2 separate regions of the Homo sapiens genome follow, and region 1 is linked to region 2. Evidence: fine-mapped expression QTL. Tissue or cell type: monocytes. Region 2 holds a variant in brackets; the other region holds the start of a gene. All regions are shown on one strand. Distances are from middle to middle.

Region 1 (2,907 bases), 390 kb after region 2:
GAGTCTTTGACAGTCCTCCTCCACCCTCACAGGATTCTGCCTCCATTTGATTCTCTGTAGGCTTGTGATTGCTTTGACCAAGAGTCTGACAGAATTGGTGTTAGGTGACTTCCAAGGCCATGTTATAATTGGCCATGGCGCTTCTCTCTTGTTCACTGGAATGCTCACTCTTGGAGCCCAGAGCCACCATGTAACAAGTCCAGCTGCCCTCAGTCCTTTATGCTGGAGAGACCACATTGAGGCACTCTGGTCAAACACAAGCCGAGTTCATCTTTTAGCCCATCTCCTCCCAAGCAGTAGACATGTGAGTGGAAAAGCCATCTTGGAAGCGGGCCCTCCCAGCCATCAAATCATCCCAACAGAGGCTACAGACATAATGAGGCAAAGGCCCACCCACTCAGTTCCCCTTTCAAATTCCTCACCATGAAATTTATGAGCATAATACGGTGATTGTCCTTCAAAACCACTAAGTTTTGGGGTGGTTTGTTAATAGAACAGTAGATAACGGGAACACCTTGAATATGTTTTTCTATGCTTTTATTTTTCCAGTGTTTTATGTATTTTTGTTTTGTGTCTCTTAGAAATAACAGCTACTCGGGAGGCTGAACCCAGGAAGTTCAAGTGAGAATCACTTGAACACAGGAGAATCACTTGAACCCAGGAGGCGGAGGTTGCAGTGAGCCGAGCTCGCACCATTGCACTCCAGCCTGGGCGACAGAGCGAGACTCCGTCTCAAAAGAAAAAAAAGAAAGAAAGAAAGAACATGGGTTTTTTTCCCCCAATCTGAGAGTCTCAGAATCAAATTCCTGAGGAGGAAGTGAAAACCTTTCACAGTTAGTATGTATGCACAGTAAAGCCCGAAACCGCACATTAAGTCTTTCTGCCTTTAGACCCACATCTTCCCTGCCCATTCTTCCTCTAGGAAATCTGGCGCCCAGTTTTCTCTGCGTAGTTGGCGCGGGGCTTCAACTCCCGGCGCTCCTCCAGCTACTGGCACCTCCCTGGCCTCCAAGACGTCTACCAGACCTGCGTCTGCCCGGGGAAACTTTGAAGTTCCCTTCGGAACCTCGCAGGCTGACAAGCAAGTCAGAGCGATGGGTGGAGGAGGTTGCCATGGAGACAGGTCCAGGGCCAGAGGCGCGGGAGGGGGAGGCGGCAGCTTGGGCTCCGATTGGCTCTGCGGGCGCGCAGCGTTCCTCTGGCGCACATGCGCAGTGACGCCGAGGCGAGGTCGCGGCTAAGCAGAGGCGCCGGGGTTTCTGGGCCGGGCTTCTCAGGACCGGGCTGGAACGTGCAGCTCCTGGCCGGGACACTCTGTGCTTTGCGGGGAAGGGAAGTGGCGGAGCCCGAGGATCCGCTGCCGCTCGGGACTGAGCCCGCCACGCAGGCGCCTGTGCCAGCGTCGCCATTGTTGCCTGTGGCCTTAGGGCCGCTCCGGCTGCCCGTCGGCCGGGTCCCAGCGACAGGTATTGATGTCCGGGCGCAGCGCGCGAGTGTCCGCGCGATCAGTGACAGCCCGAGCCCGTCCACGCGCGGGCTCCCGTGCTCGTGGCTTGCGGGAGGGCAAAGACGGGGTGGAGGCTGCTGTGGGCCCAGTCCCAGCGTTGCGCGTCGCACGGTCCCCGACTCCCCCGCTGCCCTCGACCTCGACCCTGCGGCTGAAGAGGAGTAAGAGGCAGAGGGACTTGGCCGGGAAGGGGAGGCGACAGGAGGCAAGGCAAGGCTGTCGCATCACCTCCGCAGGGCCTTGTAAACAGTTGTCTTTGGTGGCACGACTGTGCCTCAGCAGGGCTCGGAGCTGGAGCCTGGGGAGAGGTGGTGTCGGTTCTCCTCCAGATCAGGCCGGTTCTAAGGTTTCCTTCGAGAATCCTGGTTTCGAATATATCCCTAAAGAACTGTCTCCTATAGAAGCACTTAAAGGACTTGAAGTCACACCAACCTCTTCACTCTTTTCCAGTCCAACCCGCTGGTCTTCCCAACCCTCTGATAGTGAAAGGCTAGAATCGGCTGGCATTAACATGCAACGCAGATAAATGGCTCGCCCTTTCCCCTGACAGTTCCCTTGGGAACCTTGAGCACTGTATTAAGAAGAAATTCTCCTAGTTTCTTCCAAGTAACAGATTCACTTTGTTATTGTTGAGAGTCCGTTCAGTCATTACAGCTTCTGTAACATCAGTGACTAAAATAATGAAACTATTTTCTCTATAAAAATGTTTAATTTTTGTTACAACAGGTTAGAGGTTTAATCTGTTGTTTGGCTTAGATTCGAGTCATTGCCTCTGACACTACCTTTTTAATAGCAGCTCCATCCCCCACCAACCCCAAGCAGATGGCAGTTCCCTTACAAGTCTAAGGATATAGGGGAGGAAGACAAGGTAAAGCTTATGTGTGTTCATCTATGCACACTGCGAGTCTGTTTCTGTGTGTGTATATGTATAGTAGAGTACACCAGGGATTCTTGACCTTGTGGTCCATGCTTGTGTTTCAGGGTCTCTTATCCATCCCTGCAAGTTCTGGGCTCAGAATTTGTCACTAAGGCTGCTAACTCTACCTTGATTCTGTTCTGCCCTCGGCTGCAGCAGCCTTTGATATAGTGTCCTTGTGACTCTAGCATGAGACTTCAAGCAGTTGGCTCACTACTGGAGAAATAAAGGATATTGCCAGATTGACTCTCCTGTCTGTAGCAATGTTAGCCTCAAGCAAGAGGATGAACAGTTCTTCACGTTCTCAAATCCTTCTAAGGTGGAAGTCAGACAAGGCTCAGAGTGGACCCTACAATGTTGAGAAGGAAATCCTTACTTCAAGATTCTTGCGTGACACTGAGACCTGTCGACAGAATTTTAGGAATTTTCCATACCCAGACCTGGCTGGTCCTCGAAAGGCATTGAGTCAACTCCGAGAGCTCTG
Region 2 (2,907 bases):
GAAATGTCACATTACCAACAAGAAATGTCACCCAGCAGTGGGTTCTGGGAGTTCAGGTTCTGGGGGTAGTTCCCCCAGCCCAGAGCACTAATTTGATGCTACTATCATTATTAATGATTATCATTGGCTGGGCACAGGGGCTCACAGCTGTTGTCTTAGCTAATTGGGAAGCTGAGGGGAAAGAATCACTTGAACCCAGGAGTTCAAGGCTGCAGTGAGCTATGATTGCACCACTGTAATTTTGTAGAGACAGAGCAAGACCCTGTCTCTACAAAAGAAAATGTTAATTATCACTAATATTAAAATTATTTTACATTATTATAAATTATTATAAAATGATAACTATTAACCCATTATATTTCATACTATTTATATCACTACTGGTAGTTATTATACCAGTAGCAGCAGCCATGTCTTGGGCCAGTTACATGCTTGTCATGTACACACCCTTGAGAAGATCTACAAAAGAAAGTCTAGAGTGTCCATTTTACAGGTCAGGAAAACTGAGGTTGTGCACAGCCAGAGTCCTTCCCAAGATGACTCAGCCGTGCTTTCCCCACCACGGGCACTTCACTCCGGCACACTCTGGGTCACTGAACCATGGCGAATCCGTTTTCAACATGAGCTGGCAGGAGGTGAAAATTATGATGGGTAGAAGTGGCTGTCCCCATTTCACAAACAGAAAACTGAGAAGGTGACTTGACCAGTTTTCCCAGGACCTAACTAAGTTCTTCTTCCTTTAGAACCAGCATGGGAGGCCGGGCGTGGTGGCTCACGCCTGTAATCCCAGCACTTTGGGAGGCTGAGGCAGGCAGATCACCTGAGGTCAGGGGTTCGAGATCAGCCTGACCAACATGGAGAAACCTCATCTACTAAAAATACAAAAATTAGCCGGGTGTAGGGGCACACACCTGTAATCCCAGCTACTTGGGAGGCTGAGGCAGAAGAATTGCTTGAACTCGGAAGGCAGAGGTTGCAGTGAGCCGAGATCTCACCACTGCACTCCAGCCTGGGGAACAAGAGTGAAACTCCATCTCAAAAAAAAAAAAAAAAAAAAAAGGCATGGAGATGGTGGACTCTCAACCTTGAACATCTCTGAAGGTTCATTCTGAGTGGAGGTGGGAGCAGGCAGGGGGGTCTTAGAGCCATTTTCAGTATTTCAAAATAGCCCGGGGAAAAAGCATATACAGCTCACAGAAACCAAAAGCCATCTTTTCCTCCTCCTCCTTCCTTCTCTCCTTCTCTTCCCTGTCTTCCTCATCTCTCTTCTTTTTCCCTTCTTCTCCTCTTCTGCCTCCTCTTCCTCATCCTTCTTTTCCTCCTCCATTTCTTCCTCCTTCTCCTTCCCAGTTAGCAGAAGCCAGGTTGTAAGGTCACCATCCATTCCCATGCACATCCCTCAGGTCTCAGGCTGCAGCCTTATCGGGGCACACACCCTATCTCTGCACGCTGGAATCCTCTCCTGCCCCTACCCCACTGGTGAGCTCAACTCATAGCCCCCAGCCCAAGTTTGCAGTCAGTGTTTGCTTGAAAGACTGGATGAGAAAGGCCGGGCTCTGTGGCTCACGCCTGTAATCCCAGCACTTTGGGAGGCCGAGG[C/T]GGGTGGATCAGGAGGTCAGGAGATCGAGACCATCCTGGCTAACACGGTGAAACCCTGTCTCTACTAAAAATACAAAAAAATTAGCCAGGCGTGGTGGTGGGCACCTGTAGTGCCAGCTACTCTGGAGGCTGAGGCAGGAGAATGACGTGAACCCAGGAGGTGGAGCTTGCAGTGAGCCGAGATGGTGCCACTGCACTCCAGCCTGGGTGGCAGTGCCAGACTCCGTCTCGAAAAAACCAAAAAAACAAAAACAAAAACAAAAACAAAACTTGATAAGAAATTCCTCCTATCTGCCAAGCTTTTACTGTTCCTTCTCTTTCAGTCACATCTACAGGTTTTCTTGGTGAAATTGTAAAGGGCAAGAATGAGGAGCCCACCCATCGCCCCAACCCTGCTCCTTCACTCCTGCACAGACACCTCCCCACCAAGGAGGAAAAGAGGGAGTTGGCTCACGCCAACAGGAATTGGCCCCTAAAATTTTTGTTGTCTCGATCCAGGTGTAGGCCTTGTCCAGCACAGCACTCCTTATCATAAGAAATGGCAATATTAATAAGGGCAGCAGCTCAGGGGGTTGTCTTTACTAACGTGCTCAATACCATACTAGGCACCTGCCATGCATATGCTGCTCACAGTGATTCTGTGAGTAAGCAACAGCATCCTCATCTTACAGGGGAGGACGCTGGGTGTCCAAGAGCAGAAGTCGTGCCCAAGGTCACACAGCAAGGAGTACCAGCCCCATGACTCACAGCCCAGGGTTCCAAGCAGGGCTGCCCTGTGGCTTTCCCCAGGCTCATCCCCAAAGTGGCTCAGAATCTGGTCCACTCCCCCTGCTGGTCCTTGACTTGTCCATTTTAGACGCTCTGGATTGATTCCCCACTTTCTAAGGTGAGAACTTAACTTGGACGTCACTATCTGCATGCATGCAGCTTCCCCTCCCCCGGCCCCCGGTGAAGGAGGGGTGCGTTTTCAGTTGGAGTCAAGATAGACCTGCTGGCTGCCGGCTCTGCTCCAGAATGTCAACTCCTCTGCAGTTTTGTTCTTCCCCTTCTCCTTGCTCTCTCCTAGAAAGCCTGTTTTTGCCTTTGCTCACTGACAATGGTCTAATGGCTCTCACAGTGAGTAAACTCTTTTACAGAAGGAATAATTCCACATCTCCACCTTATTTGTTGACTCAGATGGCTCATTTATTTATGACAATATAAATATTGCCCACAGCTGAGCTGCTGTACATGTCCTATGATTACCTTTCTTTTCCTTTCTTTTTTTTTTCTTTCTTTTTTTTTGGGGGGGGAGACCGAGTCTCACTC

Evidence for each region. PIP is the estimated chance that this variant, and not a neighbour inherited with it, causes the effect. A credible set is the group of variants that fine-mapping cannot tell apart.
Region 1: it holds the start of ZNF287, and the variant in region 2 is the best candidate, but not a certain one, in a credible set for the expression of ZNF287 in monocytes (TOPMed, PIP 0.67).

What each region holds. Positions count from the first base shown.
Region 1 is chr17:16,567,511-16,570,417 of GRCh38, reverse strand. It overlaps ZNF287 (zinc finger protein 287), which reads left to right and starts at 1,214. Exons shown (of 6, transcript NM_020653.4): 1 at 1,214-1,466; 2 at 2,489-2,907. The coding sequence starts at 2,687. RefSeq lists enhancers at 1,150-1,649, 1,650-2,151.
Region 2 is chr17:16,962,490-16,965,396 of GRCh38, reverse strand. All of the region lies in intron 1 of TNFRSF13B (TNF receptor superfamily member 13B), which reads left to right. Among named protein-coding and RNA genes, the nearest start is that of TNFRSF13B, 8.2 kb to the left of the region's middle. RefSeq lists an enhancer at 565-834. The variant C/T (reference allele first, on the strand shown) is at 1,600.